Linked DNA regions of Homo sapiens. The protein of the gene in region 1 interacts with the protein of each later gene in a pairwise test. Each region holds a gene or a part of one and is shown in the gene's direction. Other genes may lie near its edges.

Evidence for each region.
Region 2: the proteins of TRIM44 (region 1) and TRIM17 interact in a two-hybrid assay, tested with the Homo sapiens proteins (one study listed by BioGRID).
Region 3: the proteins of TRIM44 (region 1) and TRIM10 interact in binary tests that used the Homo sapiens proteins (3 or more experiments, as listed by UniProt).
Region 4: the proteins of TRIM44 (region 1) and TRIM69 interact in binary tests that used the Homo sapiens proteins (3 or more experiments, as listed by UniProt).

Annotation. Positions count from the first base shown.
Region 1 is NC_000011.10:35,679,762-35,686,786, forward strand, and holds part of TRIM44 (tripartite motif-containing protein 44), read left to right. Parts: intron 1-5,497; coding exon 5,498-5,575; intron 5,576-7,025. UniProt on the Homo sapiens protein: May play a role in the process of differentiation and maturation of neuronal cells. May regulate the activity of TRIM17. Is a negative regulator of PAX6 expression.
Region 2 is NC_000001.11:228,413,862-228,421,693, reverse strand, and holds the start of TRIM17 (E3 ubiquitin-protein ligase TRIM17), read left to right. Parts: upstream 1-4,832; 5' UTR 4,833-5,155; exon of another isoform or gene 5,156-6,580; 5' UTR 6,581-6,621; coding exon 6,622-7,050; intron 7,051-7,801; coding exon 7,802-7,832. UniProt on the Homo sapiens protein: E3 ubiquitin ligase that plays important roles in the regulation of neuronal apoptosis, selective autophagy or cell proliferation.
Region 3 is NC_000006.12:30,151,436-30,158,229, reverse strand, and holds the end of TRIM10 (tripartite motif-containing protein 10), read left to right. Parts: intron 1-838; coding exon 839-861; intron 862-1,175; coding exon 1,176-1,291; intron 1,292-2,470; coding exon 2,471-2,503; intron 2,504-3,743; coding exon 3,744-4,261; 3' UTR 4,262-4,458; coding exon of another isoform or gene 4,459-4,542; 3' UTR 4,543-6,287; downstream 6,288-6,794. UniProt on the Homo sapiens protein: E3 ligase that plays an essential role in the differentiation and survival of terminal erythroid cells. May directly bind to PTEN and promote its ubiquitination, resulting in its proteasomal degradation and activation of hypertrophic signaling.
Region 4 is NC_000015.10:44,732,538-44,739,552, forward strand, and holds the start of TRIM69 (E3 ubiquitin-protein ligase TRIM69), read left to right. Parts: upstream 1-3,990; 5' UTR 3,991-4,167; coding exon 4,168-4,173; intron 4,174-7,015.

The DNA of each region.
Region 1 (7,025 bases):
GGGACAACACTCTAAAAGCCAAAGAAAATAGTTCTGTAGGCCTCAGGCTGTGGATATATAGCTTTTGATCTGGTCCATCTTCCTCATTTACAGATGGAAAAACAGAAACCCAGGGATGTAAAATGACTTTTCCAAGCTCACACAAGCAGTTGCTGGCAGTGCTAGTAGTAAAACCTAGGTCTCCTTTCTCTTTGTGCAATGCTCTTTACATTTGGAATGTTAATTGTTTTTGAGGATGTGAGAAAAGCTAATGTCATGTACAGCCCAAATTTTATATCGTTTTGAGGATTTCAGACCCCCTGAAATCCATACATGAATATCAAGTAAAGAACCTTCTCTTGAATCTGCTGGTCCATATGTTTGCATTGTCAAAGGAAAAGGCCCCAGTATTTACATTTAGGCAAATTCATGGGAAGAAGCACTGTAAGCAGGAGACCTTGGCCCTCTTGGTCAACTTCTGCTTCTCTCCCTGCCTTACTGCCTGCCTTTTTTTGTTTGTTTGTTTTTTAGTATGCTAAATCTTAATTATGCAATTAATAGGAATATATTTAACTCTAAAATCCTTCTATCCTAAGTACCAGTCCCAGCAATAATTGCTTTTCTAATATTCTACATACCTATGTCACTCATAGAAAGTAATAATTTTTTAAAAAACTGTTACATGTACCATTTTGCAAGGTTTTGTTTTTTTTTTTAAATTCAACAATATGTCATGCATTGTATCCAGGTACATACAACCTACCTCATTCTTTTTATTTGCTATGTCGTATTCCACAGTGTGTTAATTCCACAGTTTATTTAGCCACCCAATATTTATGAATCCTTGGGGTGTTTACAGATTTTTAGTATTACAAACAGTGCTGCAATAAATACTTTTGTACATGCATCCTTGACACAGGTGCTAGTCTTCCTCAAGAGGAAAGGAGAAGTGGATTGGTAGGCATGTGATTTCAGAGTGGCAGTTATTTTATATATCCATCAACAACATATGGAAGTCCCCAATTTCCCCAGGGCCTAACACTTGCTGTTATGAGATTAAAATTTATTTCAGGCTGATGGGTAAGAAATTATATTTTAATCATGAGTGAGTCTGAGCATCTTTTGCATGTTTTGATGTGTTTGCATTTCACATTTCTATTTTTTTTAAGACAGGGTCTCGTTTGTTCATTTTTTTTTGGAGATTTCTGTTGGGTTTATTTGGCCTTTTCTTACTGATGTATAGAAATCCCTTATGTGTTTTTTCTGTATTCTTGATACCATGTATATGTTATAAATCTTTTTCATTTAGATCTTTCTGATCTTGGTTTTGTCACTGACCAGCTCTGTGATTTTGGGGACATTGTTTGACATCCACAATGCCATTTTTGTCCATTGTGAAGGAGAATACACTACCTTTTAGTTATTGTATTACTGTGAAATGCCAGTGAAAGAGTATAAGCGCTCTGAGCTTTGGGTTCATTTGATTTTCACCAGCCATTTTTTTCAGCTGTAAAGTGAGAATACACTGCTTTTCAGTGAGATGCCAATGAAAGAGCATATGAAAGTGCTTTGGAGACTAAAGAATACCTTCACATGTACAGCATTTTGTCCTTTGGTTTTATTATGACTCATCCCTAGGAGGTGGCTTCTGTGAAGCATCCTATGCTTCTACAGATTAATCAAATTCTGAGTGGTGGGTGTCACAATGTAGCACTTATCTCTTTTTATTCTACACCTTCTTAGGGGAGGAACAAGGTACATAAACAAGATATGCTCACATTGAACTCCTGTGTTCTTGGAATGCATTGGGTGGGATGGAGGTGGAGAAGTACAGATAGCAGGGGAATCCTACTACTTTGCTAGTCATGTTATGTGCCCCAAGGATTGACAATCATTTCTAAAAATGGAACCAAATGTCTACAAGGTTAGAATTAGGCTGTCTTTTCTTACTATCCTGGTTCACTTCTCAATTAGAACTCAGGTTTCAGAGGCAGCTGTTCTGTTCCACTATCTTTTCTGTTCACTGGTTCCCTAACTATGGAACAAATGAGGATATAATCTCCTGTCTGGCTATCTTTTGACTAATGGCTGTCCTCAGCAAACAAATAATTAACCAAAACATGGTACTATTCTATGGTTTGGGGATACTCAGACTCAGATACCACCACCCTTAGACCCAAACAACCCCATGCCCCTGACCTATGTCCCATACTTTTTTTTTTTTTTTTTTTTTTTTGAAATGCAGTCTCGCTCTGTCACCCAGGCTGGAGTGCAGTGGAGTGATCTTGGCTCACTGTAGCCTCTGCCTCCCAGGTTCAGGCGATTCTCCTGCCTCAGCCTCCCGAGTAGCTGGGCTATGTCCCATGCTTTTGAAGACCCCTCCTGTAGCCATGCCTGTCCCGTTCCGTACCACTCTTCAAGTACCTAGCTACCCAAGAATTACCTGGTAAAATGTCCTGAGCTTGCTTCCAGGGCCTGCAGAGCCTCTCCTTGAGTCCGTCTGCCTGAAGATGGACCAGTTTCTGATACATGTATCCCTAGGTCCCACATGTGTATCATGGGTGACCAAGAGGGGTATTCTCAGCTTGGACCTGCTAGCTTGAACACCTGTGCACAAGGCCCCTTGGGGTGCAGGAAGGGACTGGAATGTGGGGAAAGTGGTGGGAGTGGATTGGGGCCAGAGTCCTCCATTTGGACTCTTGCCCCAGCTCTGCAGCTGTCAGGGTCAGGTCTGCCCCGAGGAGCCTCTGCCTTCTGACCAACTGCTTATTTTATAGATTTTTAAAAAAGCCTTTGGGAAAGGTTTTCTTCACCACTGATTTAGAGACTGAGTATAGCAGGCTCATCATAGAGCCCAGTTAATCTTGGTGAATAATTCACAGAGAGTGGGGTGGGGAGGTGGAACAGGTGAGTTTCCTGAAGGGAGGCTCTCTTAAGTTGCCTCTCCTCTGTCTCTTCCCTGGTTAGGCGATGCTGCTGATGCTTTGTGAAAAGGAGGAAGGATTCTGCTGACACACTGAATTTTTATGAAAGAAGGCTAAGGGTTCCCTTATTCATCCACACGAGGCACATCTGCTTGCAGACAGGCTGTCTGCTTCTTAGGGATTCCTTCGTTGTCGTTTTATTCTTTTCTGAAGGTTTTAAGACACAGTTTGGTGCATTCCTTTCTGTTCTCTAGAGCCAGGGGGAAAGTCATAATATATCAGAGCTCTTGCCGAAGAGCTTAAAATGGGCGCTGGCAGCTGGGATGTGGGGGAAGAGAGCTTTCCAGGGACAAGTGACCTGCTTGTTCAGCCAATGAGAAGCAGGTTAGAGGAATGATATCACCAGACAGGCTTTATTGTCTGATCATCTCGTAAAAGCATGATTGTTTCTGGCAACTTAACCCTTTTTTAGGCACTTCAGGTCTCACCTGCTTCCTGGTATATGACCTCTAAGTTCCTTTTGTCAACTGTCTGCTATGAGACCACAGAGATTAAAGACTAAAATTAGTGGAGGATATAGGGGAGTTGTAAACCATCATTTTAAAAAATAGAACTTATTAAAATTTAGAACCTTTGCTAACATGGAAATGTGATTTAAGCTGTGTTTGGAGAACACATCTAAAGTAGATATTGGTTGTAGTCATGTTGTGTCTGATTTTTACTGTGTAGACTTGAGAGGCAAGAGAGGTCAGAGGGGGGAAAATTGACCCTTTAGTATATTTTAATTTATATAGTGGAATCTTATTAGGTATTTCCTATTTTGGAGGAATTGAAATTAGTTCTGTAAATTTGGAAGATATGTTATCACAGATCCAGAGGCCAATTTTGAGTAAGAGATATTTGCAGTATCTGTTTATTCTTGTACTTCTTTGTTGTCCCTACCCCATAGAAATGACAGTGAGTTTACCTCTTTTTGCTTCCTTTCCCTCATTGGTGAAATGAATGTTCCTACCTATCTGATAGAGTTGTTGAGATAAGAAAATAAATGAATTCCTGTGATTTTAGATTGTCCTATATATAATATAATGTATTATTATTATGGCATTCATGTCTTAAGGTTATATGTTCATTCATTGATTTGTTCAGACTTTTTACAACATCTAGATGCTGGGCATAAGAGATACAGGGATACAAAAAAATACAGTTCTTACCCTTAAGGAACTGAAAATATCACGAGGGAGACAGATAGTAATAAAACTGTTTCATACTTCCTTTTTTATTTACCATGTGCCAGGCTCTGTTCTGAGTACCTTGACATACATTAACTAATTTAATCTTACTGCAGTCCTATGAAATAGATAGTTATTGGCTCTATTTTACAGATAAAGAAATTGAGACAGAGAGAGGGTAAGTAACTTGCCTAAGGTCACACAGCTAGTGTGTGACTAATGGCACTAGGGCTCTAGTCTGTGCTCTAAATCTGTACTGACCAATATAGTAGTCACTAGTCACATGTGGCTTTGGAGCACTTGTAATGTGGCTGGTTTAAATTGATTGGGCTGTAATTGTGAAATACTAGATTTCAAAGACCTAGCATAAAAAAAAATCTCATGTTGAAATTGCATGTTGTAATGATATTTTGAATATACTGAGTTAAGTAAAATACATCAAAATCAATTTTACTTTTTAATTGTGGCAGTTATAAAATTATATACATACGCTTGCATTTGGGACTCACATTAGTCTTTTATTGTACTGTGCTATTCTAAATCATTATACTGTAATAATAGTAATAGCATATGAAATTTTTGAGCACTCACTGTGTGCCACATACTGTGCTAATATCTTTTAAAACACTTTCAGTTAGGCCCCAAAATAGCCCAGTTTATTATCACTATTTTATAGAAGGGGGAGAAGGTTTTGAGACATTTAGTAATTTGCCTGAAATTAATCAACTAGTTAATGGCAAATCCAAAATTGGAACTGTATATGTCTGACTCAAAAACCTGTGAGTTTTATGGGTTTTTTTGGTGTTGAACTCCTGGCCTCAAGCAATGCTCCTGCCTCAGCCTCCTGAGTAGCTGAAATTACAGGTGCAAGCTACCACACCCAGTTAAAAAACCTGTGTTCTTAATCAGCACACTACAGTTCCATTCATAATTAAATTTCAGACTATTTTCTTTGTTTTAATTTTTATAAGTATATTTAATATTGCATACTTCTATATCTGATGCATAAAGGTTCAAAATAAAAATTACCAGTCTGTAAAATAGACATCTTGTATGGAACTGTCTTTTGTAGAGCTTCAGTGAACACCAGCACAGTTGAGCCTGAGATGAAGCAGTGAGTCAGCCTATACAAATTGTATTTAATTTTCATTCCATATAGTTGTGCCAGTCACTGGGCAATTTATGTCCTGACACTCTTTGTCCATAGAGAAGGGAAAGAGGGGCAATGCACCTCTCCTTTGTTGTTTAGCTCTCTTGGCTGTTAAGAAAAAATTGCTTTCTATTTCATTGTCTTCCAAAATGCTGTTTGTGTTTGAGAGAGCAACAAAATGCTGTCTAGTGACCCCTCACTTTTCTTTCTTCTAGAGCAAAGACTCAGGTGGACTGAAGGCCGCTATGATCGAATTGGTGGAAAGGTTGAAGTTCAAGAGCTCAGACCCTAAAGTAAGTATTGTTTGGAATTGATTGGGTGTTGGTACCCCAAGCATTTCATTCTCCTTGAGCTAAAATTGTGAGGTGTTGATGATCATCTCTCTGAATATTGCATTAAGATTTAATTAAGCCTGCCCATCAGAAACAGTGTCCTGATATGCCTAGAGATAAGTCATCTATTTTTCTCCTTCTCTATTTTATGACTTACAACACATAATCATTCATTGTTTTCCCTGAACTGCAGACAGGTGCATTTTTAATCCTCCTTTACCAGGGGTCTTTGAATCTTTGGTCCTCTGTGTCCATTAGATGCAGCCAAAGGCGTCTGAGAGAAATACAGATCATCTTTTTTTTTTTGAGACAGAGTCTCGCTCTGTTGCCCAGGCTGGAGTGCAGTGGCGCAATCTTGGCTCACTACAGCCTCCGCCTGCCGGGTCCAAGCCATTCTCCTGCCTCAGCCTCCTGAGTAGCTGGGATTACAGGCCTGCGCCACCATGCCCTGCTAATTTTTGTATTTTTAGTAGAGACGGGGTTTCACCATGTTGGTCAGGCTGGTCTCGAACTCCTGACCTCGTGATCCGCCCTCCTCGTCCTCCCAAAGTGCTGGGACTACAGGTGTGAGCCACCGCACCAGCTGAGAAATACAGATCATCTTAATGCCAGGGACTGGCATGGGATCCAGACTCATCTAGTTGGTGTTCAGCACTAGCGTCTTATCTCTCCACTGCTTCCAGGAGCCAGCTGCCACTCAGAATACTTTTTTCCTCATGACCTGAAGTCTGGTTTGGAAACTGGTTTAAGTGTCCCGGCTTTTTTTTTTTATTTCAATATGTTAGGGTCTAGAGGATTGATATTCTGGGAGACACCATAACGGGGTGGAGGTAAACGGAACTGAACAGACTTCCTTCTCCTTCCTACCCAGACACTTACTGTGGCACTACCTGGTATTGGGGCCAGCTGGCTTTGCCTTAGAATCAAAGTTTCTCACAATTAAATAGGGAAAGGCGCATGATTTTATTTTACTGTAGGTTCTTTTTGTTTTTGTTTTTGTTTTTTTTTTTTTTAAGAGGAATGGGACTAGCATTTCTTGAGTATCTACTGAGAGTCAGGCACTTTGCTAGGACTCTTACATGATTGTACTAAAATATACATACAAAATTTTAACCATTTTTGAGTGTACAGTTCAATGGCATTAAGTACATTCACTTTGGTTTTTTGTTTGTTTGTTTGTTTTTGTTTTTTGTTTTTTTGAGACGGAATCTCGCTCTGATGCCCAGGTTGGAGTGCAGTGGCATGATCTCGGCTCAGTGCAACCTCTCCCTCCCAGGTTCAAGTGATTCTCCTGCCTCAGCCGCCTGAGTGGCTGAGACTACAGGCACATGCCACCACACCCAGCTAACTTTTTGTGTTTTTACTAGCGACAGAGTTTCACCATGTTGGCCAGGCTGGTTTCGAACTCCTG
Region 2 (7,832 bases), on another chromosome or scaffold:
GTACACTATGGAGGTAGCCTGAGCATGCAGTGTTTATAAAAGTGGAAAGAGTGGTTCTAAATATCAAAAAGTTAAAATTCCAGAAATAATAGAAAGGAGAGTTAGGCATTAAGAGATAGTGCTATGGGCCTTGGTGGACTGAACAAAGGAGGACAAAAGTGGGAATAAAGACAAAGACAAAAGAGTATATTTGGAAAAAGGGGTCAGGGGGCTCCTTGCTTCTAGTGAACAAGGGCCCTGAGCTTCTAGAGCCCTTCTTATTAAGTAAAGGAGACAGGGATAAGGGGGTGGTTGTGGTCAGCTGCTTGACTTAGTGCAGGCCTGCATGACTGCATTCTTTGAACAGTAGGCTCCAGATGTCCCAGTAGATAACCTCAAGGAGCACAGAGCCAGGGAATGAGGCCCTCAGCGTACCTTCTGGTGGCAGGCACAGATGCGAGTTTGCCCACATCCTGCATTCATGATAAACAGTTTGCTGTTTAGTCATATAGCCTCCAGTGGAATGCTGAGTTGGTCACGACCCTCAGGCTTTCAGCTCCCAACAAGATAGCAGAATAGACCTCCCCAAAATATGCAGATTTGATATAAGAATTATTTTGAGCTGAAGGCACTTGAAGAACAGCAGGTGTAAGAAGGGCCCTCTGACCCCTTTTCCTGAAAGCAGGTGATGAACCCTCCATGGGAAAGGTGCTTGCCTCTACCAGCAGGGAGAAACAGCATGACTAGGCATGGGGACTGAAGTGCAGCAAAATGTATACAAACAGGCTTTGTTAAAGTAGCTCTTATCGCCAGGTAGAGTGGCTCATGCCTGTAATCCCAGCACTTTGGGAGGCCAAGGCAGGCAGATCACCTGAGGTCAGGAGTTCCAGACCAGCCTGGCCAACGTGAAACCCCGTATCTACTAAAAAAACAAAACAAACAAAAAAAATCAGCCAGGTGTGGTGGCGCGCACCTGTAGTCCCAGCTACTTGGGAGGCTGAGGCAGAAGAATTGCTTGAACCCAGGAGGTGGAGGTTGCAATGAGCCACGATCACATCACTGCACTCCAGGCTGGGTGACAGAGTGAGACTCTGTCTCCAACAAACAAACAAACAAACAAAAATAGCTCTTACCTTCCCCAGCCTCCCTAGGTATTCCAGTTGCTTTCTCACAATTACTACCCTTTGTTCCATCCAGTGGATAAGCACTTAGGCCTAACTACTCTTGAGGTCTTCATTTTGCTGTGAAGGCTCCCATGTACATGTACAAATGAAATGTGTATGCTTTCTCCCATTAATCTGTCTTCTTTCGTTTTAGTCTATGCAGGCTGCTATAACAAAATGCTATGGCTTGGTGGTTTATAAGCGACAGGAATTTATTGTTCACAGATCTGGTGGCTGGCAAGTCCAAGGTCACGGTGCCAACAGATTGAGCTTCTGGTGAGATTCTGCTTTCTGGTTCACAGACAGGGCCTTCTCACTGCGTCCTCATGTGGTGCAAGGGGTAAGGTGAAAATAAATCTCTGGAAAGGCACCAATCCTATTCATGAAGGCTCCACCCTTATGGCATAATTACTTTCCAAAGAACTCCATCTCCTAACACCATCACCTTGGAGGTGAGGATTTCAAAATGTGAATTTTGGAGACAGACATTCAGTTCATAACAATCCGGATTTGTTTTTCTGTGGCTCAGTGGACTCTCCTGTTGAGCAGTCTGAATTGAAGACATAAAGAGGCCATGGCTCTCTTACCCTATTTTCAGGAGCCCCTCTTCTTTTCCATTTAATTCAGCCTATTTTAAATTGCATGAGCACTTAAATTTTGCTCTCGAATCTTTTCTACAATGTTAATAACTTAGTGGGGGCTGCATTCAGTAAGGGCAAAGGATATTTACCTTGTAGCAGTGTAAGTAAGACTTGTGTTTCAAGACTGACATTGCTGATCCTTTGCTTAAATAATTTGAAAAAAAAAACCACAATCCACAGCAGTGGTATTTAATTTAAGAATTAAATTATTAAAGTAGAATTCAATTTAAGAATTCCAAAAGGATATATAGTGAAAATTGAGCCTCCCTCAATTAGGGGGTTCCTCAGCCCTTAATTTCCCTCATCAGATGGAGTTTCTTGTTTATTTCTTGTATATTTTCCAAGAGATACATATACAGTAATTATGTTTACCTAAATAGTGGCAGACTACATATACTGTACATCCTGCCTTTTATTAAACCTAACAATTTATCAGGACACATAACTGCTATCTGATTTTTTCTTAATGACTTGAGGATATGAAGGTTATTCCAATTGTTTTATCATGATGATAGATTTCTCAGCTCAATAACCAGGTGAGCCTAAAAAGCATTAATAATGAGCATCCTGGGCTGATGCCACATTTTAACAAGTATTTGTTGAATTCCCCACATCATGCTAGTATGGGAGGAGACTGTGAATTAAATTGACCAAAGACAGACGAACAGGAGAAAGGCATCCATGTTGTATTGATCTTAATATTTTTATATGCATGGGGTGTACAGGAAAGAAGTGAAAACCCAAAGAAGTTGTTAGGCTCAGCTGCTTGTAAACCATTTGTAACAAAGGGTGATAACGTGTCAGCAGGTGACTAGGACATGTGTGGTGCTATGCAAGATATAGATATATTCCATTTCCCCTCTAATTCTGTGATTCTGTTTTCCCAATTGAAGGAAACCTGCAGCTCACAATCCCCTCACTGATGCAAATGACAGGCAGAGGATTGGGTCTGCCCAATCCCCAATTTATTGGGGAAAATAAATCTTGGGCCCCAAAATCACTAGCTAAAAGGAAAAGTCAAGCTGGGAACTGCTTAGAGCAAACCTGCGTCCCATTCTATTCAAAGTCATATCTCTGCTCACTGAGATAAATGTATATCTGATTGCCTCTTTTGGAAAGGCTAATCAGAAACTCAAAAGAATGCAAACATTTGTCTCTTATCTACCTATGACCTGGAAGCCCCCTCCCCACTTCCAGTTGTCCCGCCTTTCTGGATGGAACCAATGTTCATCTTACATATATTGATCGATGTCTCATGTCTCCCTAAAATGTATAAAACCAAGCTGTGCTCGGACCACCTTGGGCACATGGCTGTGTCATGGGCGTGTGTCCTTAACTTTGGCAAAATAAACTTCCTAATTGACTTAAACTAGCCTCAGATATTCTGGGTTCACAAGGGTAATTCACTTAATCGGCCAGTGTGCGCAGCCAGCCCGCACCTGACAGCACACAGACCCCTTTGTGTGTGCGAGTGATGAGAGACCACAGAAGAAACACTCTACCGAGTGAGCCCAGGGAAAGCCAGCCATCTATGCCTGTGGCCAGCTGTCTACACCCGCACACCCAGGAGATTGCAGAATGGTGCCTCTTAGCCTTCAAGGCCCTGTTTTCCTGCCTGTCTGCACCCCCTGTGTGGGCCAAGCCTTAGTTTCTTCATCTGTCCTCTCTCTCCAATCCCAGGACTCTGACTCAGGGCACGCAGGCCTCTGGCTCCTGTTCCTGAAAGCAGGAGATGAACCCTCCATGTGAAAGGTGCATCCCTCTACTGGAGGATGAAGCGTGATGACTAGGCGTGGGGACTCAAGGCCAGGAGAAATGGCCACCAGTCAGGACCTGGGCAGGGCTGGGGGCGGCATTTTGGCTGAAACCGTAAGAGACTTTTAAACCAGAGCAACTCCATCTTGTATAGAGGCTGGGTAAAATAATTCTGAGACCTGCTGGGCTGCATTCCCCAGAGGTTAGACATTCCAAGTCACAGGATGGGATAGGAGGTTGGCACAAGATACACGTCATAAAGACCTTGCTGATGAAACAGTATGTGGTGAAGAGGCCAGCAAAATCCCACCAAAACCTAGATGGCGACCAGAATAACCTCTGGTTATCATGACTGCTCATTATATGCTAATTTTAATACGTTAGCATGCTATGAGATACCCTCACCAGTGCCACAACAGTTTACAGATGCCAAGACAAGGTCACAGTTACCCTATATGGTCTAAGAAGGGGAGGAGCCCTCAGTTTCTGGAATTGCCCTTCCTTTTCTGGGAAACTCATGAATACCCCACCCCTTATTTAGCATATAATCAGTAAATAGCCATAAAAATGGGCAACCTGTAGCCCTGGGGGCTGGTCTGCCCATGGAGTAGCCACTCTTTATTCCTTTACTTTCTTAATAAACTTGCTTTCACTTTACTCTATGGATTTGCCCCGAATTCTTTCTTGCCCAAGATCCAAAACCCTCTCTTGGGGTCTGGATCAGGACCTGTTTCTGGTAACAAAACCACCTGGGGTGTCGGCAAGACCCACCCCGTCCCGCCTGGTTCTAGGGGACCTGACCTGCCAGGTGGTCCCTCCAAACTGGTCCGCCCACAGGATTGGGACGCCCCTCCCTGTACCCTCAGCCTGATGCTGACTGCCAACCATGTGGGCAGACCTGGCGGCTGACTGGCTGCTCCTGGGGACCCCCTTCATAGCTTCTCAACAGGCACTCGCTCCTGCTGCCTCGCCCCCACCCCAGCCCACACAAACTCCTCTCCATCCCCTACCCCGACCAACTTAGCCCCTCACCTAACCCTCCAGCCTGGGGCTCGCGTGCCCTCCCGCAGCCCCAACCCCAGGTTGAGAAGCCTCTTCCAATCCCACTCCCCCCACCCTGACGCTCGCCTGCCCGCCCCTAGCCCCACCAGCTGTCCCCATTCCACTCCCCACCCCCAAGTAACCCCCCAACTCCCCACCCTCCACACTCCCTTAACCTCCCCTAAAAGTCCCACCCCAGGCCAACAAGACTCCTCCCTTCGCTGGGCTGTGGACCACATCCTCCCCACCGCCCAGTCAGCACCCGCTGCGCCTGTCCCCGGCTCGTCCAGAGCCTTCCACCCCCTGCCGCCTTCCTTCCCCAAGCCACCCCCAACCTCTCCTAAGAGGCGCCGCCCCAGTCCCGGCCGCCGAACACTCCCTCGCCCAGCATTCCCCTCCCCCGCCGCCCCCCAGCCCCCGCTGACGCCACAAAGTCCCTAGGCCTCCCGACCCCAGGTCCCCACGCCCCGGGCCGGGCCGCAGCCTCCTGGGCTTCGTGGGGGCAGACCCAGCCTTTCCCGGCAGCGAGCGCTCGGCCAGGTGCACTAGGCGCTGTGCGGGCCCCCCTTCCCCGCGGTGAGTAGCCCCCACCCCGCCGCCTAGGCTACCCTCCTGTGGCGCCTGGGCCACGACCTAAGCCTAACCCGGTCCTCCTCGCCCTCCAACGCCCGGCCTTCCCGCCTCCGCCGGCCGCCGCGTCCCTGGAGGGGCTAGCGCGCTTCAACAAGGTAACTCTACCGGGACCCTAGCGGACCAGAGCGGGAAGGACAGCCATCCCGGCAGCCAGAGCCAGAGCCCCAGGCCCGCTGCCGCTGTCCCTGCCCGGCTTCGGTCAGGGTGGGCTGGGTGCCTCCGTTAGGGCTCTTGGGGGGAGTCGGAGGGCTGGCGCCGGGTGGTTGGCGTGCAGAAAGCTCCGAGAAACTGGACGTGGGACAGAGCCGGGGAAGTCTGAGACCCCTAGACGCCCTCGCTTTAGGGGATGGCAGAACGGAAGGGGAGAATCGTGCTTGCAGTGTAGACGCGATTTTCAACTCCTTCTGCAACTCGGTCCCCATAGCAACCCCGTGGCGTAGGCGAAAGTCTGTAGATCTCCACTGCGTGGGGTCGCGAGTGTTGAGATTGCAGGGGGCATCTATGTGCATGCTTGTGTGCCTGTGCGTGTGTGCGCGCGTGTACCTGTGTGTACATGCATGTATGTTTACCGATATGTGCATCTGTGCCTGTGTGTGCTGTGTTTGTGGATCAGTGTTTCTGTGCGTACATGTTTGTATTTGTGTGGTGTGTATGCGTGGGTATGCGTGTGTGCACATGCACGTTTGTATACATACATGGGTATGTGTATGGGTGTTCGTCTGTGCGTACATGCACACGCGTGTTTTTTCTGAACCCCACCTCACTACCGAATGGAAGAGAGCTTTTTTCCTCTGATAGCCCATCCCTTCTTCCTTTGGTGTACGGGGTTTTGTTAAAGAAAAAATTCTGACATTTGAAAGGCTCTTTAGTCAGGCTACTTGCAATGGGAGAGTTGCGCCAGCAAAGACAGCTGGGGATGTATGGGGGAGTTGGAGTGGGGATCTGGGTGGGGTCAGTGGATGGAAAGTGATTAAGGGAAGGCTCCAAGGGTAGGGGCTTCTCCCTAAGCTGACCTAGCAGGCTTCTCCAGAAAGGCAGGTTGAAGGCCTAGCCGGCAACGGTCTGTCGGGGAGGAGGAGCTGATGAGATGTGGAGCTGGGGGTAGCCAGCAGCAGGCGGAAGTGGACGGGTAGGGTCCAGGCCCAGTGGAGAGGAGAGGCGGAGGGGCCTGCAGAGCATTGGTCAGGGAGGGTCTGTGTAGTTTCTGGGGAGGCATCTGTGTCTGTTGTTGACAAGGCTAAAAATGATGACTCTGGACTCTCTAACTGGACTGCAGTCCTAGCCCTCCTCTGTAAAGGGAGGCTGTACAGGACGGTTGCACACTGCCGGCGCCCAGATCATCGGGCTGCTCCCTCCAACTCTCTCCAGAGTCCCTCAAGCGGGAACCTGCCTCGTGTCTCCCAGGAGCCATGGAGGCTGTGGAACTCGCCAGAAAACTGCAGGAGGAAGCTACGTGCTCCATCTGTCTGGATTACTTCACAGACCCTGTGATGACCACCTGTGGCCACAACTTCTGCCGAGCCTGCATCCAGCTGAGCTGGGAAAAGGCGAGGGGCAAGAAGGGGAGGCGGAAGCGGAAGGGCTCCTTCCCCTGCCCCGAGTGCAGAGAGATGTCCCCGCAGAGGAACCTGCTGCCCAACCGGCTGCTGACCAAGGTGGCCGAGATGGCGCAGCAGCATCCTGGTCTGCAGAAGCAAGACCTGTGCCAGGAGCACCACGAGCCCCTCAAGCTTTTCTGCCAGAAGGACCAGAGCCCCATCTGTGTGGTGTGCAGGGAGTCCCGGGAGCACCGGCTGCACAGGGTGCTGCCCGCCGAGGAGGCAGTGCAGGGGTACAAGGTAGGCCACATCGGGGCCCAGGTCAAGGGGCCGGGGAGGAGGCATCCAGGGGGACAAGGTGACCCAGATCATGGGGGAGGGAGGAGGTGTCCAGGGACAAAGTGGCCCGAGTCAGGGGCTGGGGAGGAGGCATCCAGGGGACAAGGTGGCCTGTGGCTGGGTAGGGGTGTCCCTGGGGACAATGTGGGCCTACACTGTATGATGCAGGCATTGCAAAATCTTACCTCTCCTCTCAGAGTATTTTGGGTGGCTCTGAGAACCAAACTGATTTGAGACAGATAAGCAGAAGCAAAGCACTGAAATTCATTCCCTGTAAGCTTTCCATGACCCAGGAGTCGCTCCCAAGGAGCCAGAGGCCCATGGAAGCATGTTAGAGCCAAACATGTACCTGAGGAGGATGAGGGTTAGTTTAGCAGGGTCCCTTTGCACAGATTTCTCTGGTTTCGGCTTTCCCGCCCTTGGTAAGAACATGGCTTTCCTCCTGGCCTAGGGCAGTCCTCTCTGGCATGGTGGCTGTGCCTTCTGCTCTTAGGAAGGCCGAGGGTCACAGCAATTCTTACACCTGCCCTTTTTTAAGTGCCTTCAGCTCAAAATAATCCAAGGTGGCACATTCTGGGTGACGTATTTTGATCCCCTGCCCCTCCTGAGGAGGGTCTCTGGGGTGGGTGCAGTTTCAGCGAGCACAACTGGACTCTAGGCAGGAGGTAGGGGGATCGCTGATCCCAAATCCTGCGGTTTGTGTGTCCCACAGTTGAAGCTGGAGGAGGACATGGAGTACCTTC
Region 3 (6,794 bases), on another chromosome or scaffold:
TGGTCACTTTTTGCTCTCTGGTCTCCACCTCTCCGTCCCACCATCTGCCAAATAGGGAAGATACTTTCCTTAAATATTTCACAGGGCTTTTGTGAGGATCCAACAGTAAGATGGAAGTGAAAGTAGCACTTTGAAAAAGTATTAAGTAAGTTGCAAACCATTCTCTATAACCTAAATGTCACCAACCACCAGTCAGGAAGTTTGTCCTGGTCTATTTCACTTCCTCACACTGGAGGAGAGGTATTGGGGTCCCCACAAAGTATTGGAAAGGCAGCATGACTTAGAATGATGCTCTTAGGACTGAGAAACAGGAGACCTTGGTATGAGACTTACTTTGCCTCCAGTGAGCAGGGGAAGGTCACTTCACCATCTTTATCTAAAAAATAAAGGCTTTGGGCTCTGATCCACAGAGATGGGTGAGTCCTAATGCTCTGTGACTCTATGCATCTGGTATCCTTTTCCTGTCCAGGGCTAGAAATATATTTTGTCTTTTCCAGTCATAAGAAAAGTGGGAGGAGCCTGGGCAACATAACAAAACCCCATCTCTACAAAAAAAAAAAAAAAAAAAAAAAGAAAATTAGCCAGGCATGGTGACAAACACCTGTAGTCCCAGCTACTCAAGATGCTGAGGTAGGAGGATCCCTTGAGCCCAGGAGGTTGAGTATGCAGTGAGCCATGATCACGCCACTGTATTCCAGCCTGGGCACCAGAGTGAGACCCTTTCTCAAACAAACAAACAAGCAAATAAAAAATAAATAAAATAAAAGTAGAAAAAGAAAGGAAAGAAAAATGGAAAGGAGAAGCTGGAAACTGAATTTCTGGTATCTCTTTCTCCTAGGACATCAGAAGCACTCTAATAAGGTAAGCAATATAGTTTCTCTCTTTTCTTTTTCCATATAAATATACATACATGTACTGCATGCCTAGTTATTGCCACACAGGTATATAACATTCTCACTTAAGGATACAAATTTACATATAAACCTCTATATACCCAAATGCCTTCTCAGGTATATCCATAGATGCCCAAAAATGGGCAGTGGGATTCATCCTAGAGGAAGTACGTCTGCCTGCAGGAACTAGCGCCATCATGCCCTATTAGAAGATGACCAGCTGAGTCTGGAGACATTATTAAGGATGATAATTCCCAGACCCAGCCATTTCTGTGCCCCTAGATGTGAAACCAGAAAGTGCCGGAAACCGGTGGCTGTGTCGCCAGAGCTGGGCCAGAGGATTCGGGACTTTCCCCAGCAGGCCCTCCCGCTGCAGAGGGAGATGAAGATGTTTCTGGGTAAGAGAACCCCAGGCCTCCACAGAGCGCAGGTGGCCATGAAGCCTGGGTTTAGGAGTGGCCTCCACGCTCCACTGCTGAAAGGTGTGACTTTGGCAAGCCTTATTCCTTCCTGTGCCTTGATTTCCTTATTTGCAGATTTTTATAAAATCTGCCTATTAGGATATTGTGACAATGAAGAAAGAGAATAAAGGTGAATATTTCTGGTGAAAAAGTTAAACTGATTTTAAAATAATTCAACAAATCTGATTAGTGGTCATTAAGCAATATGAAAGATAATGATTAACAATATATCATTCTTAATAAGTTAAAAAATCCCACAGCAACATTTGTAATATGTGATAAGTTTTTGATGATGAACATTGTTAATTAATAGCCAACAACAGTATTTATCTTGACCCTGTGGTATCTGGCTCGTCCCTCCTTCCTTCTCACTTTCTTTCTGTTAGTCTGGCTCAGAGTTAGACGGTCCTACGGGGACTGTGCTCCACTTCCTTTTCCGGAACAGGGAGTGGTGGTAGGGTGTGGGGGAGGGTTTGGATGAGAGTCAGGAATGGGACATGGCTCTCTGCCAACCACCTCCTCACTAACCATGACAGAATGAATGATGACACCAATTTTGAAATGACCCACCCACAGTTATGTCACCCTAGAAGGACTTTTCCCATAATTCCATTTCCTGCAAATACTTCCAGTGACCTGTCAGTGAAGGAAATTTCACTCTAATCAAAGGCTGACCTTTGACTCTCCCCAAAATTATTTCCAAGTGGAATAATAAATAAATGAACCCATTTCTCTATTCACTAAGCAGATATTTCTTGAGCATTTACTATGTCCTGGGCTCTGCGGGTACAGAGGTGAGCAAGGCAGTCATGGTCCCTGTTTGATCAGGGCTAGGGCAGTGGGGCTCCCACCAGCAGCAGCAGCTGCATTGCCCAGGAAATTGTTAGAAATACAGATGTTCAGCTCCACCCCAGAGCACCTGAATCTGAAACAGATGTGTTTTAACAAGAGCTCCAGATGATTCTGATGCAAGCTTGGAACCACTGGTCTAGAGGATTCCAGCTTACATTCTTCTTCTTGTCCCTTCCCTCTTCTTGGCCTCAGTTTTCTCATCATTAAGTGTCTGATGGTTTTGTAAGACTAATAAAATCTCATCCTGGTTTATTTTCTTTACAGAAAAACTATGCTTTGAGTTGGACTATGAGCCAGGTAAGGAGCCTATGTCAGGATGGGAGAGAATGAGAAGTCCTCGGAAAGGAGAGAAAATTTTGCAGGATTTGCACTATGACTATGTTATGACTATGACAATAGTCATAACAAACACCCATGGATACATATACACATCATATATATTATATATACACATATGTGTGTGTATATAATACATGTGTGTATATATAGGTTGTGTGTGTGTGTGTGTCACATTGTTTGTAAGGCTCTCAGGAGAAACATGAAGAAAGGACAAGCACATACACATACTACATTCGTGGTATGAAGCTCACATCCTGATCTGCGCATGTCGAGTAGATAGAAAGATTAATGCAGAATGGGATAAAGTCCATCTGGGAATGCTTTCTGGATAAAGGGGACTTTGATCTGGGTTTATAATCACCTCTTTAGAACGTAAGGAACCCCTGCTTCCTCTCAGATGTCATTTCACAGATGACAGAAGGAGGGCGGCCTGTGGGTGGGAAAAAAATGAACAGAATGGACCCCTTCAAGGCTGTCATTTCTCAATCAACCAGCCTAAGACCCTGGGAGTCACGGAGTTGTTGGAGGGGGTTCTCTAACCCACAGATGGACCTAAATTTATGGAAGCTTCTCAATTTATGAATACTAAAAGTAACAAAACGCAAGGCTCTGCAGCAGTTTTTGGTGGTAAAAAGTGGTCCTCAGACTCTGACAGTTTCAGAATTACTGAGGCAGAGTGAATAACCCAGGGGTGAGCCAGAGAGCCTGCCAGGAGGGAAGACTGTAAATGAGTCACCAGTGCCCTGGGAGGAAAACAGGGAGGAATCATGAAGTTTGGACTGAAGGGAGAAATGTCGCTGCACTGTGGGATAGAGATGGGAGGAGGGGAGAATGTGGTATATCAGCCCCAGGAGATCCAAGCTGGCACGCACAGCTTTGGAAACCAGCCAACTTGCGGTGAGCAGAAGAGCTTTCCCGAGGACCACACTGAACTAAACGAGAGCTTTCACATCCTCTGAGGCAGGCTTTTCAGGCTTTACCTGTGTGCAAATCACCTGGGCATCTTGTTAGGATGCAGATTCTGAGAGCGTATATCTAACAAGTTCCCAGGTGGTTCCACACTGTTGGCCCACGTAGGCACTATACATGTTTTTGGTAATAATAACACTAACAGGAGGGGCCCAGGGGGAGTTTCTATGCCTTCCTTGGAGGTAATAGCATGTCTGCTGACATCTGTCCCTTTTGGTTATCCCCACAGCTCACATTTCTCTAGACCCTCAGACTTCCCACCCCAAGCTCCTCTTGTCCGAGGACCACCAGCGAGCTCAGTTCTCCTACAAATGGCAGAACTCACCAGACAACCCCCAACGTTTTGACCGGGCCACCTGTGTTCTGGCCCACACTGGCATCACAGGGGGGAGACACACGTGGGTGGTGAGTATAGACCTGGCCCATGGGGGCAGCTGCACCGTGGGCGTGGTGAGCGAGGATGTGCAGCGGAAGGGGGAGCTTCGGCTGCGGCCAGAGGAGGGGGTGTGGGCTGTGAGGCTGGCTTGGGGCTTCGTCTCGGCTCTGGGCTCCTTCCCCACACGGCTGACCCTGAAGGAGCAGCCCCGGCAGGTGAGGGTGTCTCTTGACTATGAGGTGGGCTGGGTGACCTTCACCAACGCTGTCACCCGAGAGCCCATCTACACCTTCACTGCCTCCTTCACTAGGAAGGTCATTCCCTTCTTTGGGCTCTGGGGCCGAGGGTCCAGTTTCTCCCTGAGCTCCTGAGAAGGAGCAGTTACCTACTCTCCTCTAAGTACAGGACTCATATCAACCCAAGTACCATGTGGACTTGATCCCTGGCTGAATCACCTGGATGACTTGGAATAGAAATGACTGCTTTAGAAGATGGGATGGGGCCGGGTGGTAAGGGATAGAAGAGAGGACTCTCAATCTACTGATCAAGTCCTTTCCCCAATGCCCAGTGGATGGCCAGGGTACCTGGGGACTCAGGCTGCTGCCAGTTCTGCTCACCACCATCCGTGCTTGGCACAGAAGTAGCTGCATAGAAAGGGCACTGGATTTGAAGTCAGAAGACCTGGGTTCTTGAACCAGCCTGTCAACCAGTTGTATGACTTTAAACAAGGCATCTCACCTCTTTTCATCTTGTTTTCTTCCAATAATGTTAGAGTTCATGTAATCACATTCTCTAGAACCATTTAGTTTGTGTTAACTATGAACCAAGCAGTGTGGTGGCCACTGGTGACTTGAAAATATAGAGAAAAAAAAAACCTGCTCTATATCTGAAAGAGCTCTTGGGAAGACAGAGAAACATAAAGAGGAAATTACAGCACAGTGTGGTGGGTGTTACGGGAAGTCCAACCCCAGCATTATGGGAGTTCAGGGGAAGGGGCATAGCCCAGCCTGGAAGGAGAGGGTGAGTGGGGGATGGCTTTCTGAAAAGGGTGGTCTAAAGGATGCCTATGGTCAATAGGGAAAAGAGGGGAAGAAGCATCTTAAGAAGAGGAAACAGCAGAGAACTGGCTGGATGACCTGTGACTCTGGAGCACTGGGTTGTCTCCATTGTCATTATGGGCAGATGTGTGCCATCCCCAGCCGACGCCACTCACTGCCTCCTTCCTCCTGGTGTTGCCACTTCTGGGTGAGATTAAGGTGCAGGGCCTGGGGGCAGGAGGACATAAGGTATAGCCATAAATCATAACCCAGGGACCACACTCAACCCTAGGGAAATTGTCTTCCTGATCAGTTGATTACCATCTGAGGTCAAGAAATGAGATAGTGGGAGCAAATGGGTCACAAATAGCTCAGCTGTGGGCTCAGAAACTGCTAGGTAAAAGAATTCCAGAAGGAGGCCAGGGCATAAGTTGGATGACCTATGAACTTTAGTCTAAAGAATTGAGACTACCGTAATTGAGACTACTGTAGTGACATCTGAGAAATGGGATGGAAGAGTGACCATGTTTTATTTTCTTGTTCTTGTCACTATTGTATTTTATTTTGCATAATCATGCCCTTCACTGACAGTCTCCTTAACATCATCTGTTTACTCTGCTCAGTGTAAACTACAATGCTCTGTCATCTCCCTACTGGGTCTCCTGGGAGGAGGGGAGCCATCCAGGGTGCAAACTCAAAGGCAGAGGGCACAGCGTGCTTAGGCCCAAGCTTAGAATTCAATTGAGAAGTTCTGTTGTTCATCCTTACCTCAGCAGGTAGAAAAGAGGTGGAGATCAGAAGCCAGGGATTAGAGATTGAATTGCTTTCCCTGGGAGTGTGCAGTATCTCATTAAAATGTTGTATATTCAAAAAAATACAGACACACACAAGTGCCTATATAATGATAAAACATATCCAAAGCACCCAAACCTGTGATTCCAGAAAAGTAGATCCTATTTTTGTTTATTTTTATTGGCTTTAGCTGTGTCTTTTGAAAGGACTATTATCCTCTAAAATGTATGTGTATGAAGATCCTGGCTTGCAGCTCGGGAGCTTTACACACCTTGTGTCACTTTATCTTGGTAACGAGCCAAGATCATGCAACCAGTTCATCCATGTCTGACCCAAGAGCTCTTAACTGCTATGCTGCACTGCCTCATTCAGAGATAGATGCCTGCATGGGTCCTGGCGATTATTTTAATGCTGGCTACACCCCCACAGGTGACTTGGATTCAGAAATACAATTTATATTTCTTCTTTTTAAATTGTTTTATTTTATTTTTCTTTTAATAGTTATATGTCAGTGAGAACAATTTATATGTCTTACACTGAGAAATAAAACTGCTCATAAGTGAAAACACTCATGTTGGTCTGTCAGTACCTGCTTCTCCCCTAGGGTAATTTTACTTGAAGTTTACTTGCTTTCGGAGTATGGAGTCAGCACAGGGGAAGTGGATAGATCCTAAAACCTGGTAACTTCAAGATAAGGCAGCTTAATGAACCTCCTTGCTCTGCTGGCCGGAAGTGGGACTCTGGGTTCCCTCCCCAGGAAGTGCTCAAGTCTAGAGGCCCCAGAGTCCCAGCTACCCTTTCCGACTCTGAAGGACTGTTGCACATTTGTAACATCCACAGTTTACACCTCATTTTTCAAAGCTTACATGGTAGCAACCCTTTCTATTGCAAAGAACTGAGACCCACTCAAGTTAGTTCAAATGATAGGTAAGTTTATTATAAAAGCAGAAATAAGGAAAATGCGATTTTCCACCATGAGCCAGGCCCCGTGAGAAGCTATGTCAGGCGTGAGCGAGTTGGTGGGGTCACCACTCGTTCCTGTAGGAAGAACTAGAGATTCCAAAAATGCTGATAA
Region 4 (7,015 bases), on another chromosome or scaffold:
AAACTAAAATCCTAAGCCCCCTAATTGACTGAATGGAACCCCTCTTGACCAAAGTGACCCCAGAAAAACCTTAAAACTGAGTTCCTGGCCATGACGGGATGGGAGGTCAGACACGCTTCATTATATCTCCGTCTCTTTTATGGTTTAGACACAACAACTGACCAGCATTAATGTCAAAATAAAGATCATAAGGCTGACAGAATAGACCCTTTGTGGCAATAACAAATTATTCGTAAGATCTAAGGTCATGCCAGGCAAGTGTTATGTCATGCACTCCTACACTTAAAGAATAAACTATGTTCTAACTGCCACAAGATTTTCTATTTATTTATTTATTTATTTATTTTTTGAGACGGAGTTCTGCCCTGTCAGTTTTTCTTTTTGTTTAGCAGCTAAACAAGCACCAGCTGAGATAAGCAATTTTTTTTTTTTTTTTTTTTTGAGTCAGAGTCTTGCTCTGTCGCCCAGGCTGCAGTGCAGTGGCCCGATCTCGGCTCACTGTGAGCTCTGTCTTCTGGGTTCATGCCATTCTCCTGCCTCAGCCTCCCAAGTAGCTGGGACTACAGGCACCCACCACCACGCCCCGCTAATTTTTTTGTATTTTTAGTAGAGATGGGGTTTCACCGTGTTAGCCATGATGGTCTCCATCTCCTGACCTTGTGACCTGCCTGCCTCGGCCCCCCAAAGGGCTGGGATTACAGGCGTGAGCCACCGCACCCAGCCACTTTCTCTTGATAAGAAGACCACTGACTATGGGCTGGTTCTGGCCAGTTTATAGAGGCTAAGCACCCTTGTTCCTTCCTGTCCTGAACAGGCATTTTGACTTATAGGGTCTAATTGTTATGCATTTAAGTGTTAAGTCTCCACCTTAGGCCTGGCGTGGTGGCTCACGCCTGTAATCCCAGCACTTTGGGAGGCTGAGGTGGGTGAATCACTTGAGGTCAGGAGTTTGAGACCAGCCTGGCCAACATGGCAAAACCCCGTCTCTACTAAAAATACAAAATTAGCTGAGTGTGGTGGTGCACGCCTGTAATCCCAGCTACTTGGGAGACTGAGGAAGGAGAATCATTTGAACCTCAGAGGCAGAGATTGCAGTGAGCTGAGATGGCGCCACTGCACTCCAGTCTGGGTGACAGAGTAAGACTCCGTCGCGAAAAACAAAAAACAAACAATAACAACAACAAAAAGAGTTAAGTCTCCACCTCAAAGTGAACATGGGTTGTATGTTACATGCATGTTTGTTCAATAAGCATGAGTCAGGATGACCTTCATAATTATTCATAGCTCCTCCTGTAACCTGTTGAATATGTATGTTTAGCCAACCTATTCAGCATCAAGTTCCTACCCCTGCTCCTCCTTTGAAGTGCCTGTCTCTGGTCTTTGCCAGAGATTGTACTTCCTGGCCTGTGGGATGGCCACCTTGCAGGCCTTTAACGCTTTATAAGAAATAAAGTCTCCTCTCCAAATTTATGGATGTTGTGAGTTCTGTGTTAACAAAGTAGAGAGAAGGAATTTGGGAGACTGACAACTTTGCAAACCAGAGCCACTATAGAAGTTTGGACTTTTACTTAAGAGAGAAATAAATTTCATTCTTGCTTAAGCAACTTTTATACTGGGTATATTAGTCAGGTTGACATACAAAATTAACCATCACTCTGGGTCTCGTTTACAGCAATGGAATTTTTTTATTTTTTATTTTTATTTTTTGAGACAAGGTCTTACTCTGTCAACCATGCTGGAGTGCAGGGATATGATCATGGCTTACTGCAGCCTCGACCTCCTGGGCGCAAATGATCCTCCCACCTCAGCCTCCTGAGTAGCTGGCACCACAGGCACGTGCCAACATGCCTGGCTAATTTTTAAATTTTTTGTAGGGACAGGGTCTCGCCATCTTGCCCAGGCTGGTCTTGAACTCCTGGGCTCAGGTGATCCTCCCACCTTGGCCCCCCAAAGTGCTGAGATTACAGGCATGAGCCACCATGCCTGGACACTGTTTTTAAATAGTGAAAAAAAGACTTGAAGTACTCTTTGTGAAGATTGAGACTTCTTGCTACATAGGATTTGGAATCACAGGCTTCTAGAGACAGAAGGGGGTCTTAGGAATTCACATTTTAAAGAAGGAGGAACTGACACCCATAGGAGTTAAATGTCTTAGCTAAGGCTATTCAGTGCTCTGGTGGTGAGAGACAAGGCTTCCATCTTCTAGGCCAGTACTCTTACCCCTAGGCTAAAGGTTCAAAAATGTGCAGGCGCTGGCTTTAGTAAAATCAGCTATACTAAGCATTGTCAAATGTTTTAGCCAACAACAAAAACAATCAAGATGAAACAAAATTACTTTTTTGACTAAGTGATCACCAGCATTTCATAGACATTTATCTGACAAAGGTTTTGATCTAACAAATGCCATGTATTGCCAAGGTGAGCAAGATACAGTACTACCTATCCTGTGGTTTGTTCACAACTTAGTGGAGGGGCAGACATGCAATCAAACAATTAGAATACACTCTGTTAAAGCCACGTGTACAAAGATCTAGGGTGCTATAGAAATGTGTAAAACTAGGCCAGGCGTGGTGTTGCTCACACCTGTAATCCTAGCACTTTGTGAGGCTGAGGTGGGAGGACAGCTTGAGCTCAGAAATTTGAGATCAGCCTAGGCAACATAGTGAGACCCTGTCAGAAAGAAAAGAAAAAAGAAAAGAAAAGAAGGAAAGAAAGAGAAAGAGAAAGAAAGGGAGAAAGAAAGAAAGAGAGCAAGAGAGAAAGAAAGAGGAAAAAGAAAGGAAGAAAGAGAAAGAAACAGAGAGAGAAAGAAAGGGAGAAAGAAAACAGAAAGAGAGAGAAAGAAAGAAAGAGAAAGAAAAAAAGAAAGAGGAAAGAAGGAAGGAAGGAAGGAAGGAAGGAAAGAAGGAAGGAAGGAAGGAAGGAAGGAAGGAAGGAAGGAAGGGAGTAAAGCTGTGTTTCTCAACTGGGGAGTGATTCCAACCCCTGCCCCCAGGAGACATTTGGCAATGACTGGAGACATTTTTGTTATGACTGGGTTTGGTGGGGGGGGGGTGGCTACAGGCATCTAGTGTGTAAACGCCAGGGACACTGCTAAATATCCTAAAATTCACAGGACAGCCCCTCTAACGTAAGACTTAGCAGGCCCAAAATATCAATAGGGCTGAGGTTGGTAACCTCTGGTATAGAGCCAGCAAAATATCTTCTACAAGAGACAGGGAAGTGGGTAAAGCTTGGTTTGGGGATGAGGGGGTGGTTAGGGAAGAGTTTAGTAAAGAGATAATGACGGGGGTGTGGGGGAAGGGAAACTCCCATCCGAAGGGACAACATATACAAAGCTGCAGAAGCGTGACATATTTGGGCGATCCCAAACACTGGGGAAAGAGCTGTGGTCATTAAGTCTGGACAGCTAGGCAGGAGCTAGACGTGCAAGAAATCATATTGAGTTAGAGGAACTACTGTAAGAAAAACTGTTTGGCTCTGTGGTGGCTCTTTATAAGTCACTCAGGAGCACAGTGTTGGTACATCTCTCTGCGAGCTAAAACTGCTGAAGAAAGCTGTATGAAATGAAGCTTTTTTCATCCTGCTTTCTTAGGGCCTGGTGTTTCCCAGGCCTGTGTTACTGTCTCAGAGATAAAATCAGGGCTGCTTCATTGGAATATGAGAGGTGAACTAGCTCTCTATTAAAGCCACTCAGCTGGTGTCTTGATGGTGTGATGGGATCATGAACAGGGGTGAGGTGGTTATTTTTCATGAGTTAGGCTTAATATAGGCTGCTGCTGACGTGTATTTCCTCTTTCATAGAGCATCCTTAGTCCAGAAATGGGGAGCTATGAACCTTAAGATTAGACCACTAACTCGAATCTAAATGAGCTGCCCTTGTCTCCTACAAAAGAAAAGTTGGGCAGGTAGGGTATTCTAATGAGGGTTTCTCTTTCTCTTAAGCAAATGATGATCAAAGTTAACTGACAAACTGTCACGGAATCTGCCAGACCTCACTCTGGCCTTGCTGCTTCTCTCCAGCTCCTGAACTTTTCTTTCTTCCATCATGCTCTGAGCCCATTCCTTGAAAACTAAAAGGTCCCTGACTCCCAGTCTGCAGCCATCCTGGGCCTGCTGAGCTCTGATTCAAGTGCCTGCCTCTGCCCCTTGGTGGGCTGAAGCTTCATGGAGGTGAGTGACCCTTTTTTTTTTTAACTTAGCAGGGCTTCTAGGAATAGTGTGGAAAACAGGATCATAGAAGAGGATATGGATTTAGGAGCACAAAAGGAAATTCATGAAGGGAAGTATTTAACTTGTGACAGCTGGTAGCTACTATACTCTCTCCAAGCCTTGGAATAACTGATAATTTATACTAGAGAAGCTGGTAGGAAAGTAATGAAATCCACCAAAACATTTTGAGAAAAAATAAACTATATACTATATACAATTTACTTTCATTATCAATGTAATCATTTTATTTTAGATTTAAAAATTATTATGTATAACTTGGTTTGCTTACAATACCTTCACATTTGATTATTTTATATTTAAGGCAGAGTTGATACTTAGATAGTAAACATTTTTAATTGAATTCTTCCTTTAAGACCTCTTCAGAGCTAAAATAAAGGAAGTTATGTTCTTCTGAACTTAGTGTTTTCCTGATTGTCAAACAAAAGAAAATGGTTATTTACTACATGAAAGCTTGAAAAACTCACTAAGGGTTTTTCAGGGGCCCTTGAATCCTGAGTTATCATCCATTTCCACTAGTTTCCACTTCTTATAAAGTTTAATTTCATTATATTAATCATTAAGATCAGTTTCTAATTTCCTCTATCATAGGACCTTTAGGTTTGCTGCTACTCATCTCTGTGCTTAGCTATTGAAGCAAACAGGGCTATAAGCATTTTGTTTATAATTTCTAGGGCAAAAATAAACACTATTGCCTAAACCTACTATATTCTTATTACTTTAAGGCCAAGTCAGTGAAAATAGACACTTTTCCATAATAGTAAAAAAATTGTTTGTGTGATAGTGAGTTTCCCATTACTTCAGATGTTCAGGCAGAGGTTGGAAAGGAGTGAATTAAATGGCTTAAAATTTCTTTCAACTCTGGGAAGCTCCAAGAAGTCAGAAAGTTCAGAATCTTGCCTTCTTATGTGCAAATGGCTTGACTCGTGAAGCAGGAGTGTGTCTTGCTCTTAGGTTTAAGCTGGCTGTGCTATATAGTTTGTCTCTGTGGATGAACTGTATTTTTCTGCTCTCAAAGTTAATTCTTCATAAAAACTGCCCATCAAAGTTTAAAAATTACTTTGAAGGAATAAAGGTTGAAAAGCAACAAATGAACTCTCCTTAGATATCTTAACTATGATTTCAAAAATTTACAACACAAAACTTCTCAGGAAAAAAAAATCTCTGGTAAAAATTAAGGATTTCTTATGCAAGCTTCCATGGACTTCATAGCTCTTTGCCTTTTCTCTGCTCTTTGAGAATGTGCACAGTGAACTGAAGGAGGAAGATACATACTTTCTTTCTTTCTTTTTTTTTTTTTTTTTTTTTTAGGACAGAGTCTCACTCTCTTGCTCAGGCTGGAGTGCAGTGGCACCATCTCAGCTCACTGCAACCTCCGCTTCCAGGGTTCAAGTGATTCTCATGCCTCAGCATCCCAAATAGCTGGGACTGCAGGGACGCACCACCACGCCTGGCTAATTTTTGTATTATTATTTTTTTTTTTAGTAGAGATGAGGTCTCACCATGTTACCCAGGCTTGTCTCCAACTCCTGACCTCAGGTGATCCTCCTGCCTCAGCCTCCCAAAGTGAGGCTAAGATTACAGGCCTGGGCCATCGTGACCTGCTGATGTGCTTTCTTATAAAGTGATTCCTGCCAGCCAGGGCTTTATAAGGATGAATATCAATTCCTGACTCGAGTTTCTCTCTCTCTGCCTTAAGGTTAGACTTCTTCCCCTAAAAGGGGCTGGCAGTAGATGTGTTTCCTAAAAGATTTCCAGGTCCAGAAATTTTAGACTCTCATTTGGTTTCCAATTCTATAGCTCCCTCTAGAGCAGTAGGAAGTTATTGCAGATATTTTGCTTCACAAATTTGATCCATTTAATAAATTCAATTCCACAAAACATATTGATGGGCTCTCTGCTGACTCAGTGGTTAATAGGCTTTGGGGTCAAATAAAGAGTTCAAATCTGAGACCCACTACTTAATAATTGTGACTCTGGGAAGATACTTGAAGCAATCTGAGCTTCAGTTTCCTTAAAATATGTAGTAATAATACGTATTTCATAGGGTTGTTCTGAGATTAAATGAAATAATGTATGTAAATCCTCTTCCACAGTGAATGCTCAGTAAATATTAGCTAATATAATTAATCCCTTGTTTTACAGAAAAGGATATATTATTGAAAGTCAGGGGAATTGGCAAACCCTCAGCTAGCAAGATGAATTAACCATATAAAACCAGTCAATCATATAATATCAATAATTAATAACATTAAATATATTTTCATATCATATAACTCACCCTTTTGAAGTTTACAATTCAGTGATTTATAGCATATTCACAAAGTTGTACAATTATCACCACTATCTAATTCCAGAACATTTTCATTATCCCCAAAAGAAATTCCATACCCATTATCAGTCACTTCCCGTTCCTCTTTGCCCTGCCTTGGTAACCGCTATATATTTTAAACATACTTTAAAAACACACGGAGGGGGCAGCCAAGATGGCTGAATAGGAACAGCTCTGGTCTACAGCTCCCAGCGTGAGCGATGCAGAAGACGGGTGATTTCTGCATTTCCATCTGAGGTACCAGTTTCATCTCACTAGGGAGTGCCAGACAGTGGGCGCAGGACAGTGGGTGCAGCGCACCGTGCGTGAGCCGAAGCAGGGCGAGGCATTGCCTCACTCGGGAAGCGCAAGGGGTCAGGGAGGTCCCTTTCCTAGTCAAAGAAAGGGGTGACAGACGGCACCTGGAAAATTGGGTCACTCCCACCCTAATACTGTGCTTTTCCGACGGGCTTA